2 separate regions of the Homo sapiens genome follow, and region 1 is linked to region 2. Evidence: fine-mapped expression QTL. A gene starts in region 2. The other region holds a variant in brackets. All regions are shown on one strand. Distances are between the middles of the regions. Region 1 holds the start of LOC124904713 (a long non-coding RNA gene). Region 2 holds the start of FBXO17 (F-box protein 17).

Region 1 (5,363 bases), 36 kb after region 2:
CCCCCACCTATCTCCAGTGTCTGGGCCCCCTGCTAGAATGGCACTGACACCAGGGCGGGGTCCTTTTCCGGTTTTATTCACTGCTCCGTCCCCAGCAAACTAGCGCAGGACTGGCACCTCCTCAGTCCTTTGGGCCTATCTGTTGAAGTGGAGGAAGAGAAGGGGCCCGCAGGCCCTCACCCTCTCACTCCCCTTCCCCCTGCAGGTCTCCCACGTCTTCACCAACTTTGGCAAGGGCATCCGCTACGTATCTTTTGAGCAGTACGGGAGAGACGTGAGTTCCTGGGTGGGGCACTATGGCGCCCTTGTGACCCACTCCAGTGTGAGGGTCAGGATCCGTCTGTCCTAGCGACTGGACTACTGCCTGACGTTGTCAGTCAAGACCAGCCTTGCAGCCAGGTGCAGTGGCTCACACCTGTGGAATCCCAGCACTTCAGGAGGCCGAGGTGGGAGGATCACTGGAGCTCGGGAGTTCAAGACCAGCCTGGGCAACATAGTGAAACCGTCTCCACAAATAATTTTTAAAAAATTAGCCAGGCATGGTGGTGCCGCCTGTAGTCCCAGCTACTCAGGAGGCTTGGGTGGGAGGATTGCCTGAGACCAGGAGGTTGAGGCTGCAGTGAGCCGTGATTTCACCACCACTCCAGCCTGGGTGAGAAAGCAAGACCCTATATCAATGAAAAAAAAAAAAAAAAAGACCAGCTTTGCAGCCAGAAGCCAGAGGATACCCAGGGACAGTAGGGCTCCCAGGTGGCTGGTTCTCAGCACACCTTCCATGAATCTGCTTGCTGCTGCTTCAGTGTGGTGGCCATCATGCTGTGTGACAAACCAGGCTGTTCACAGCTTCCTCAGCCCCCCAGAAGGGGAGTGTCAGGAAGAGACATTTAGTTCATTTGCCTGCAAATTTTCTTCTCCTGCAAGGATCTCGGTGGACTCAGTCACAAAACAAAGGCTAAACCAGGATTTATAAGAGAGGGCTTATAAATCCCTCTGCCGACGCAGGGAGCAGAGACTTGCCGGCATGTTTTGGGGGTAATGATCGTGGGCAGGGAGCAGAGGTCCGCTGAGGCAGTCTGTCCTTGAGACTAACAAAGTCATCTGCTGTTTGGGGAAATCTCTGGTGTTGGGAACAGGCCCCCAAATCTGGCCATAAACTGGCCCCAAAACTGGCCATAAACAAAATATCTGCAGCACTGTGACATGTTTGTGATGGCCATGACCCCCACCCTGAAGGTTGTGGGTTTACTGGAACGAGGGCGAGGAACACCTGGCCCACCCAGGGCGGAAAACCGCTTAAAGGGGTTCCTGAACCACAAACCATAGCATAAGTGATCTGTGCCTTAACGACATGTTCCTGCTGCAGATAACTAGCCAGACCCATCCCTTTATTTCAGCCCATCCCTTTATTTCCTGTAAGAAATGTTTTTAGTTAATCTATAATCTATAGAAATAATGCTTATCACTGGCTTGCTGTCAATAAATATGTGGGTAAATCTCTGTTCAAGGCTCTCAGCTCTGAAGGCCGTGAGACCCCTGATTTCCCACTCCACACCCTATATTTCTGTGTATGTGTCTTTAATTCCTCTAGCACCGCTGGGTTAGGGTCTCCACAACCGAGCTGGTCTCGGCAAGTGGCACCCATACGTGGGGGCTCGAACCCAGGTCGAAGAGTCACTGGAGCGACGGTTGGAGAACGTGGAACTAAGCTGGAGGACACCCGAGTACTCTTAAGCAATCCCCATGGTGAGTAAGAAGGGGAGCTCGGAAGCATCAGGGTAGCAATGGGACAGGTGTGGGTTCTGGTTCATTCCACCTTGGAACCTTTTCACACTGATGAGGAGCAGGGAGAGTGTAATGAAGTAATGGAAGAGGTAACAGAGCAGGTTTGTTTGCCAGCTAAAGCTAAAGTGGCAAAGGAGGAAGAGGTTCATCCCTACCCTTCTGCATCCCCTCCTTAGTGTGAAGAAAAAGAGTGACCTGACCCTCCAGATCTTTCTTTTCCAGAGGACACTGGGTGAAAAGTAGTTGCCCCAGTGACTGTTTGGGCAGTGCCTCAAGCGACTGCTCTCAGTTCCATTCAGGCAGGAATTCAGCAAGCTAGAAGAGAGGGTGATTTAGAGGCTTGGCAGTTCCCTGTTAGAATACATCCCCCAGATCAACAGGGAAATATTACAGCTACATTTGAGCCTTTTCCTTTTAAATTACTCAAAGAATTTAAACAAGCTATTAATCAATATGGACCAGGTTCTCCTTTTGTAACGGGACTGTTAAAGAATGTTGCTGTTTCCAGTCGGATGATTCCTCCTGACTGGGACGCTCTTACTTGAGCTTGTCTAACTCCTGCTCAGTTCTTACAATTTAAAACTTGGTGGGCAGATGAAGCTTCCATTCAGGCTCCTCGCAACACCCAGGCCCAACCTCAAATTGATATAACTGCACACCAACTTTTGGGGGTCGGCGGCTGGGCTGGTTTAGATGCACAGGTGGTCATGCAGGATGATGCCATAGAGCAGCTTAGAGGAGTGTGCATCAGAGCTTGGGAAAAAATCACTTCAGGTGGAGAACAGTACCCTTCCTTTGGTGCTGTAAAACAGGGACCAAAAGAACCGTACACAGATTTTATAGCTCGGTTACAGGAGTATCTTAAAAAGGTGATTGCAGATTCGGCTGCTCAGGATATAGTGTTGCGGTTATTAGCTTTTGACAATGCTAATCTCAATTGCCAGGCTGCTCTGTGACCTATTAGAGGGAAAGCACATTTAGTTGATTATATCAAGGCCTGAGATGGTATCAGAGGTAATCTGCATAAAGCTACTTTGTTGGCACAGGCAATGGCAGGACTGAAAGTGGATAAAGGAAATACTCCATTTCCTGGAGCTTGTTTCAACTGTGGGAAGCATGGGCACACTAAAAAAGAATGCAGAAAAAAATCAGCAAGTCAGGCCGGCAGACAGGGGAAAAAAGAAAACTGCTGAGCCTGATATATGTCCAAAATGTAAAAAAAGGAAAACATTGGGCTAATCAGTGTCACTCTAAGTTTGATAAAGATGGGAACC[C/T]GATTTCGGGAAATGCCATGAGGGGCCCATCCCGGGCCCTGTTCGAAACCAGGGGCATTTCCGCCTCAGGCCACTCCTTCACCCCTGTACAATGTCTGTCCCCTGCCACAGCCAGTAATGCCACAGTAGATTTATGCTGCACAAAAGCTGTGAGCCTTCTGCCTGAGGAACCCCCGCAAAAAGTTCCAACAGGGGTCTGTGGACCCTTGCCAGTGGGGACAATAGGATTACTTCTAGGGAGGTGTAGTTTAAATTTAAAGGGGGTACAAGTACAAACAGGAGTCACTGATTCAGATTACAATGGAGAAATTCAAATTGTTTTTTCTACTTCTGTTCCCTGGAAAGCAGAGCCAGGAGAGCGCATAGCACAGCTCCTGAATGTGCCATATGTGGGAATGGGAAAAAGTGAAATTAAACGAACAGGAGGATTTGGAAGCACAAATAAACAAGGCAAAACAGCTTATTGGGTGAATCAAATTACTGATAAACGTCCTACCTGTGAAATAACTATTCAGGGAAAGAAATATAAAGGTTTGGTAGATACAGGAGCGGACATTTCATTTCTCTATAGCAATGGCCGTCCACATGGCCAATTCAACCTGCTCAGTTTAACATAGTTGGAGTTGGTAAAGCCCCTGAAGTATATCAAAGTAGTTATATTTTGCATTGTGAAGGGCCTGATGGACAACCTGGGACTATTCAACCAAAACTTCTGTACCTATAAATTTATGGGGAAGATATTTATTACAACAATGCGGAGCACAAGTTCTAATTCCAGAACAATTATATAGCCCTCAAAGTCAACATATGATGCATGAAATGGGGTATGTCCCTAGTATGGGACTAGGAAAAAATTTACAAGGTTTGAAGGAACCGCTTCAAGCAGAAATACAAGTTTCCGCCAAGGTTTAGGATATTATTTTTGATGGCGGCCATTGTTAAGCCTCCAGAACCTATACCTTTAAAATGGTTAACAGATAAGCCAATTTGGATAGAACAATGGCCGCTAAGTAAAGAGAAACTGAAGGCTTTAGAGGAATTAGTTACTGAATAATTAGAAAACGGACACATAGCTCCAACATTTTCCCCTTGGAATTCTCCAGTTTTCGTAATTAAGAAAAGAATCAGATAAACGGAGAATGTTAACTGACTTAAGAGCCATTAATTCAGTTATACAACCCATGGGTACATTACAGCCAGGATTGCCTTCTCCTGCTATGATTCCAAAAAATTGGCCTTTAATAGTCATAGATTTAAAAGACTGTTTCTTTACTATCCCCTTAGCTGAGCAAGACTGTGAACAGTTTGCATTTACAATTCCTGCAGTAAACAACCTGCAGCCTGCTAAGCGTTTTCACTGGAAAGTATTGCCACAAGGCATGTTAAACAGCCCAACAATTTGCCAGACTTATGTAGGGCAAGCAATTGAACCTACTCGTTAAAAGTTTTCACAGTGTTACATTATTCATTATATGGATGATATACTTTGTGCTGCCCCCACTCGAGAAGTATTACTCCAATGTTATGATCACTTACAAAATTCGATTTCTTGCGCTGGTTTAATTATAGCTCCTGACAAAATTCAGACTACTACTCCTTACTCCTACTTGGGGACCTTAGTAAATGACACTACCATTGTGCCACAGAAAGCAACCATACATAGGAATCAATTGAAAACATTAAAGGACTTTCAAAAATTACTAGGGGACATTAATTGGATACGACCTGCTCTAGGCATTCCTACCTATGCCATGAGTAATCTATTTTCTATCCTTAGAGGAGATCCTGGTCTCACAAGCCCTCGGTAATTAACAAGAGAAGCTGAGGCAGAGCTGCGGCTAATCGAAAAGCAAGTCCATAAAGCTCAAATAAATAGATTAGATCCAGAGAAGACTCTAGATTTGCTAATTTTTCCAACTCAGCATTCACCTACTGGTGTTATTGTTCAAGAGTGAGATCTTGTAGAGTGGCTTTTTCTTCCACATACTAATTCACGGACTCTAACTCCTTATTTGGATCAAATTGCTACTATGATAGGAAATGGGAGAACTCGGATTGTTAAATTACATGGATATGATCCTGGAAAAATTATTATCCCTCTCACAAAGGCACAAATACAGCAAGCTTTTATAAATAGTCTTACTTGGCAAACCAATTAAGCTGACTTTGTGGGTATTCTCGATAACCATTTTCCTAAACAAAACTGTTTTAATTTTTGAAATTAACTAATTGGATTCTCCCTAAAATAACTAAATTTAAACCAATTGAAGGTGCTGAAAATGTTTTTACAGATGGGTCTAGTAATGG
Region 2 (5,375 bases):
TGTTTATTTGTCTTGAGATAGAGTCTTGCTCTGTCACTCAGGCTGGAGTACAGTGGCACCATTACAGCTCACTGCAGCCTTAACCTCCCAGGCTCAGGCGGTCCTCCTGCCTCAGCCCCCCAAGTAGCTAGAACCACAGTCACACACCATCATAGCCAGGTAATTTTTAAATTTTTTGTAGAGATGGGGGTCTCACTATGTTGCACAGGCTGGTCTTGAACTCCTGGTCTCAAGTGATCCTGCTGCCTCCCAAAGCACTAGGATTACAGACATGAGCCACCGTGCCCGGCCAATGTAAACATTTGATAACACATCAGATTGGCAAATGTCAGGGCCTCCTAGTTCAGTTCTTCTTGGTTGATGGGAATGACAGTTGAGGTTTTATTGTGATAGAAGGCTTTAGATTTAATTGGGTAGAAACAGGCCTTGCTCAGCAGAAAGAGCTGCAAAGTAGGCACATCAGCCTGCACCATGTGAGGAGACACCAGGAACAAATGTGACTCCGAGGGAAAGCACGACCAAGACCATAAATAAAACCTCTCTTCCTGTTCAGATCCAAGCACATGGACAGGCTCTGAGTGACAACCGCATTCAGTGGGCTGCCCTGCTAGAGGTTCCCCAGGCCTCTCCACCGGTCCTGAATCATCAGCCTTCCTGAAACTGGCTCTGACCTAAAGCCGAAACCTCAGCAGGTCTGAGGCGGTTACCAGGGCTCCTTATATTGGGTGAGTCAAATCACACTCCCTGCAGGAAAGGAGTCTAAAAACTAGAATACCAATAATAAAGAAACAAGGCCAGATGCAGTGGCTTATGCCTGTAATCCCAGCATTTTGGGAGGCCAAGGCAGGCGGATTGTTGAGCTAATGAGTTCGAGACCAGCCTGGGCAGCATGGCGAAACCTCATCTCTACAAAAAATACAAAGATTAGCCGGGCATGGTGGCGTGCCCCTGTAGTCCCAGCTACTTGAGGGGCTGAGGTGGGAGGATCACTTGAGCCCAGGAGATCAAGGCTGCAGTGAGCTGTGATCATGCCACTGCACTCCAGCCTGGGTAACAGAGCCAGACGCTGACTCAAAAATAAATCAATAAATGAAAAATAAACAATTCCACTTTTTGTAATAATAACAATAAAGAAACAAGCTCAAGTCCATGGGTATCAGCACACTGGTGACACGTGTCAGCACAAGTATGCATTAGCTTTGTAATCATTATAATAACACACAATTGCTTTGTCTATTTGTTAAGGTATTTACAACAATCGCAAACATCTGACATTAGATTTGGGAAGGCTTTAAGCGATGGCTTTTGGAAGGAATGTTGAAATGATTAGGGAAATCTGGTTTCGAGGAAGACTTAGAGGAACAACTGTTTAATGTTTTATCAAAGAACAAAGATTAGTTAGTATTCTTGTCCCTACATATGCAAGCCCCTGGATGTCAGAGAATTGAGCAGCATGAAGAAATGGCTACTTACGGCCAGGCGTGGTAGCTCACGCTTGTAATCCCAGTACTTTGGGAGGCCAAGACAGGCAGATCACCTGAGGTCAAGAGTTCGAGACCAGCCTGGCCAACATGGCCAAACCCCCTCTCTACTAAAAATACAAAAATTAGCCAGGCGTGGTGGCGCGTTCCTGTAATCCCAGCTACTCGGGAGGCTGAGGCACAAGAATTGCTTGAGCCCGGGAGGTGGAGCTTGCAGTGAGCCAAGATCTAGCCACTGCACTCCAGCCTGGGCAACAGAGCGAGACTCCGTCTCAAAAAACTAAAATAAAATAAATAAACCCCCCAAAATCCGGAATGCAAAACAAACCTAGGCCTACGCCTTTCACATAAGGAACTGCGTGTGGATCTGTGCTAAAAACTCTACCAATAATACAGTAATTTTACAACCCACAGCAGAAAATGCTTTCAAAGGCGGTTGTTACAAATAATGTAATAGTAGTCAAATTAGCGTTGGCTCTGAGTCCAGCACTGTGCTCCGCGCTGCACACGCAGTCTCACGCCGTCCTCACGATGGCGCTGTGGGGCCTGGCTGAGGTTTCTAGGGGAAGGGGCTTTAGGGAATCCAGGCTCTCTGGCTGTGTGACCCCTCCAAGCTAGCGACTTGGACTACGTGCAACAGACCAGGTATCTCTGGACTTCAGTTTCTCGGGAGAGGCGTCCATGAGGAGGTCATGCATACAAAGCATTTAGCACAGTGGCAGATATGAGCCAGTGGGCCTGGAGAATGATTTACCAGCGTGGGGGAGGCCTGGCTTCCAGAAAACTAGCTCTGGGGTGTCTGAGATCAGTCACCTTGAGGTCCCTGGTGCAATCTAGGGCCATCAGAAGGGACTGCAAAGACCCAAGGGCAGAGGTAAAGGGAGAAAATGGGTCGCGGCCCCAGCCTGACCGAAACTGAACCTCCGGATTAATTCAGTTGTCTATAGCTGGGGGGATGGGGAGGACAGGGGAGTCCTAAGGTGGAAGGGTACAGGTTTGTCATTGCCACAGAGAGTGCGTGTGGTGAAGGGATTTAATTTAAGATCAGCCCCGGGCTTCTGAGAATCTGGCCCTGGGAAGCAACGTAAATACAAGAAAATCCCTGTGGCCAGGGACTTTGATCCAAGTGTTTCGAATCAGGCCCTGGGTCGGGCTCACAGCTAAGCGGTTTACCAACCGTGGACCTGTGCAGGATCCCATGGATGTGAGGGGTGGAGACGGCCGCAAGCAGGAGGCCAGGACCAGAAGGAAACGGAATTTGGGTGGGGGTGGGGAGCTAGGACCAGTCCCCCCGCGGGGGCGTCTTGGGGATGTGGAACTCGCACACCCAGAGGAGGTGGCTCTCCCAGGGGTGGGCCCCGGATCCTAGGGGCGCGGGGCTGGCCCCGCTCCCCGCTGGCCTCGCGGCAACTGGGCCTCCCCCTCGCTGCACGCAGCCCTCCAAGCTCCCCCGCCCGCCCGCCCTCGCTCCCGCTGGGCCCCGCAGCCGGAGGAGGGGCGGCCTCCCGCCCCCGCCCGCTGGATCTCAGAGTCGCCGCCCCCGGCGCCGGGCTGCAGCCGCCACGCCCCGGGAGAGGACCGACCGCCCAGACCGCCGGTCCCGGGGCCCCCTGGGCCACGCCGATCACGGGGAGCCCCTCGACTGCCTCCCAGAACAAAGTGGGAAAGGGAAGCTTAGCCCGCCGCTGCCGCCTCCGAGCAGCCCGCCAGGTGAGCGCCGGGACAGGTAGGGGACCCAGGTCGGGACCCAAGCGTCAGTCCCGTTCTCGCCCACAGCTGGGGCGCCCCGGGAAGGATTCCCGCGCCAGGCCCTGCCCGGAGGGGCGGGTCCCTGGGAGTCCCATAACCCGCAGCGTCGCTTTCCCGGGCCCTCCCTCGGCCTGAGGCTCCTTTAAACCCAAAGTTATACAAATGCACGTTAGAAAGCCCTAAATCTGGAAGGGCTTTGCTTTGAACGTGGGTGTTCGAACGCCCAGGCCTCTCCATCCCTGCGCTCGTCCGCGGAGGCCACCATCCAAAACCCCTGCCAAACGCTGCAAACCAACACGTGGGCGCAACAGCCCGGGGAAGGCCAGGCCGCTTTTTACCGTTGCTGGATTTTCTGTCTTCTGGCCGTCAGTCCCTTCGCAGAATCTGTGAATCAGAAGCCTTGGAGGGCGGTTTCTCGATTTAGCAACTTGGGCACATTATGTGTTTCGCTGCGGCCCCAACCCTCAATTTAAATTTTGTTCTGCCAAGTTACTTTTGCAATGTTCAGTGATATGTTCGAAAGCTCTGTATACTGCCTCTTCAACTTTAGACAGCGTCTATTTACTCCATATTTTGAAAGACAAATATTATGGGAGTCTAGTTGTAAAATAAATAATACTTCTTTAAAAATGTTCCAGTAATACACGACACTCAGACACGTAGGACAGGACAGAGCTTTGCATGGAAAACAACACGCCTTTAAACAACAACCTCTCCCTCACCACCGCCCCCAACCCCTGTCGGCCAAATACATTTTTTTGTTAACTACATTACTTTTCAAAAATGGCAAGAAGTAACTCGTGATCGCTGGTGCCTCGTTTTTAACTTTTTCCACTTTTTATTCCTCTGGTATCTATTTCCAAATCTTTACAGCATATTTTTGGATTGTTATTTCTTATTTCATCAACTTTTAGACAACGCGTCCATGGATCCCTTGCTAAAAATAGGAGACAACTTTGATCATCTCCGTGGTTTTCCTCCTCCCTATATAATCACCTCCCTGTATAGTCAGGACATTACTTTCGGCTTCTCTATTGGCTACTTTTCTAACATAAAATAATTTTTTTAACTTGTATTTATTGTTCCATTAAATATACCTAGTATCTGTTGACTCTCTTTTTGTAAGGCTTGGCTAAGGAGCTTCTTTTTAAAAAATATATTTTTAGGCCGGGCGTGCGCGGTGGCTCACGCTTGTAATCCCAGCACTCTGGGAGGCCGAGGCGGGCGGATCACCTGAGGTCAGGAATTCAAGACCAGCCTGGCCAACATGAACCCCGTCTCTACTAAAAGTACAAAAATTAGCCAGGCGTGGTGGTAGGCGCCTGTAATCCCAGCTACTCAGGAGGCTGAGGAAGGAGAATCGCTTGAACCCTGGAGGTGGAGGTTGCAGTGAGCCAAGATTGTGCCATTGCACTCCAGCCTGGGTGACAAGAGCAAGACTCTGTCTCAAAAAAAAAAAAACTATATATGTACATATATATATGTGTGTATATATATGTGTATATATATATATGTATATATATATATACACATATATATTTGAGACCCTGTCTCAAATCAAATCAAATCAAATCAAAACTGTGTTGCCCAGGCTGGAGTACAGTGTCGTAATCATGGCTCACTGCAGCCTCAACCTCCTGGGCTCAAGAGATCCTCCCACCTCAGCCTCCTGAGTAACTAGGGCTACAGGTGCACGCCCCCCCACCAAACCCCACTAATTTTTTTATTTTTTGTGGATACGGGGTTTTGCCGTGTTACCCAGGCTGGTCTCGAACTCCTGGGCTCAAGCCATCTGCTCGTCTTGGCCATCAAAAGTCCTGGGATTACAGGTGTGAGCCACCGGCGCCCAAACAAAAAGATATATTTTTAAAATAACATTTTTGTATTTATGTAAATATTAATTTCTTCAATTCTAATCAAATTCTACATATGGCTTAGAAATCAAATAGAAAAGTTTGCCTTAATTTTTTCTATAATAAAAGTATGTAATCTCTTTTAGAAGAATGGAAAACGAAGTGTTTTAGATTAAAAGAGATGAGTGAGACCTGCCACCCCCACTGGTGTTTGAGCCCCCACGGGGATCTTGTTAGGAGGAAACAGCCACAGAAGACCTGCTAGAGACAGCAGGGGAAATTGTTCACGGAG

Evidence for each region. PIP is the estimated chance that this variant, and not a neighbour inherited with it, causes the effect.
Region 1: its variant is the best candidate, but not a certain one, in a credible set for the expression of FBXO17 in esophagus muscle (GTEx, PIP 0.63).

The regions. Positions count from the first base shown.
Region 1 is chr19:38,937,594-38,942,956 of GRCh38, reverse strand. It overlaps FBXO17 (F-box protein 17), which reads left to right. Exons shown (of 6, transcript NM_024907.7): 6 at 206-1,556. The coding sequence ends at 349. It overlaps LOC124904713 (a long non-coding RNA gene), which reads left to right and starts at 1,559. Exons shown (of 2, transcript XR_007067253.1): 1 at 1,559-1,743. The variant C/T (reference allele first, on the strand shown) is at 3,057.
Region 2 is chr19:38,973,402-38,978,776 of GRCh38, reverse strand. FBXO17 (F-box protein 17) reads left to right here and starts at 3,035. Exons shown (of 6, transcript NM_024907.7): 1 at 3,035-3,191. RefSeq lists enhancers at 489-588, 1,039-1,088.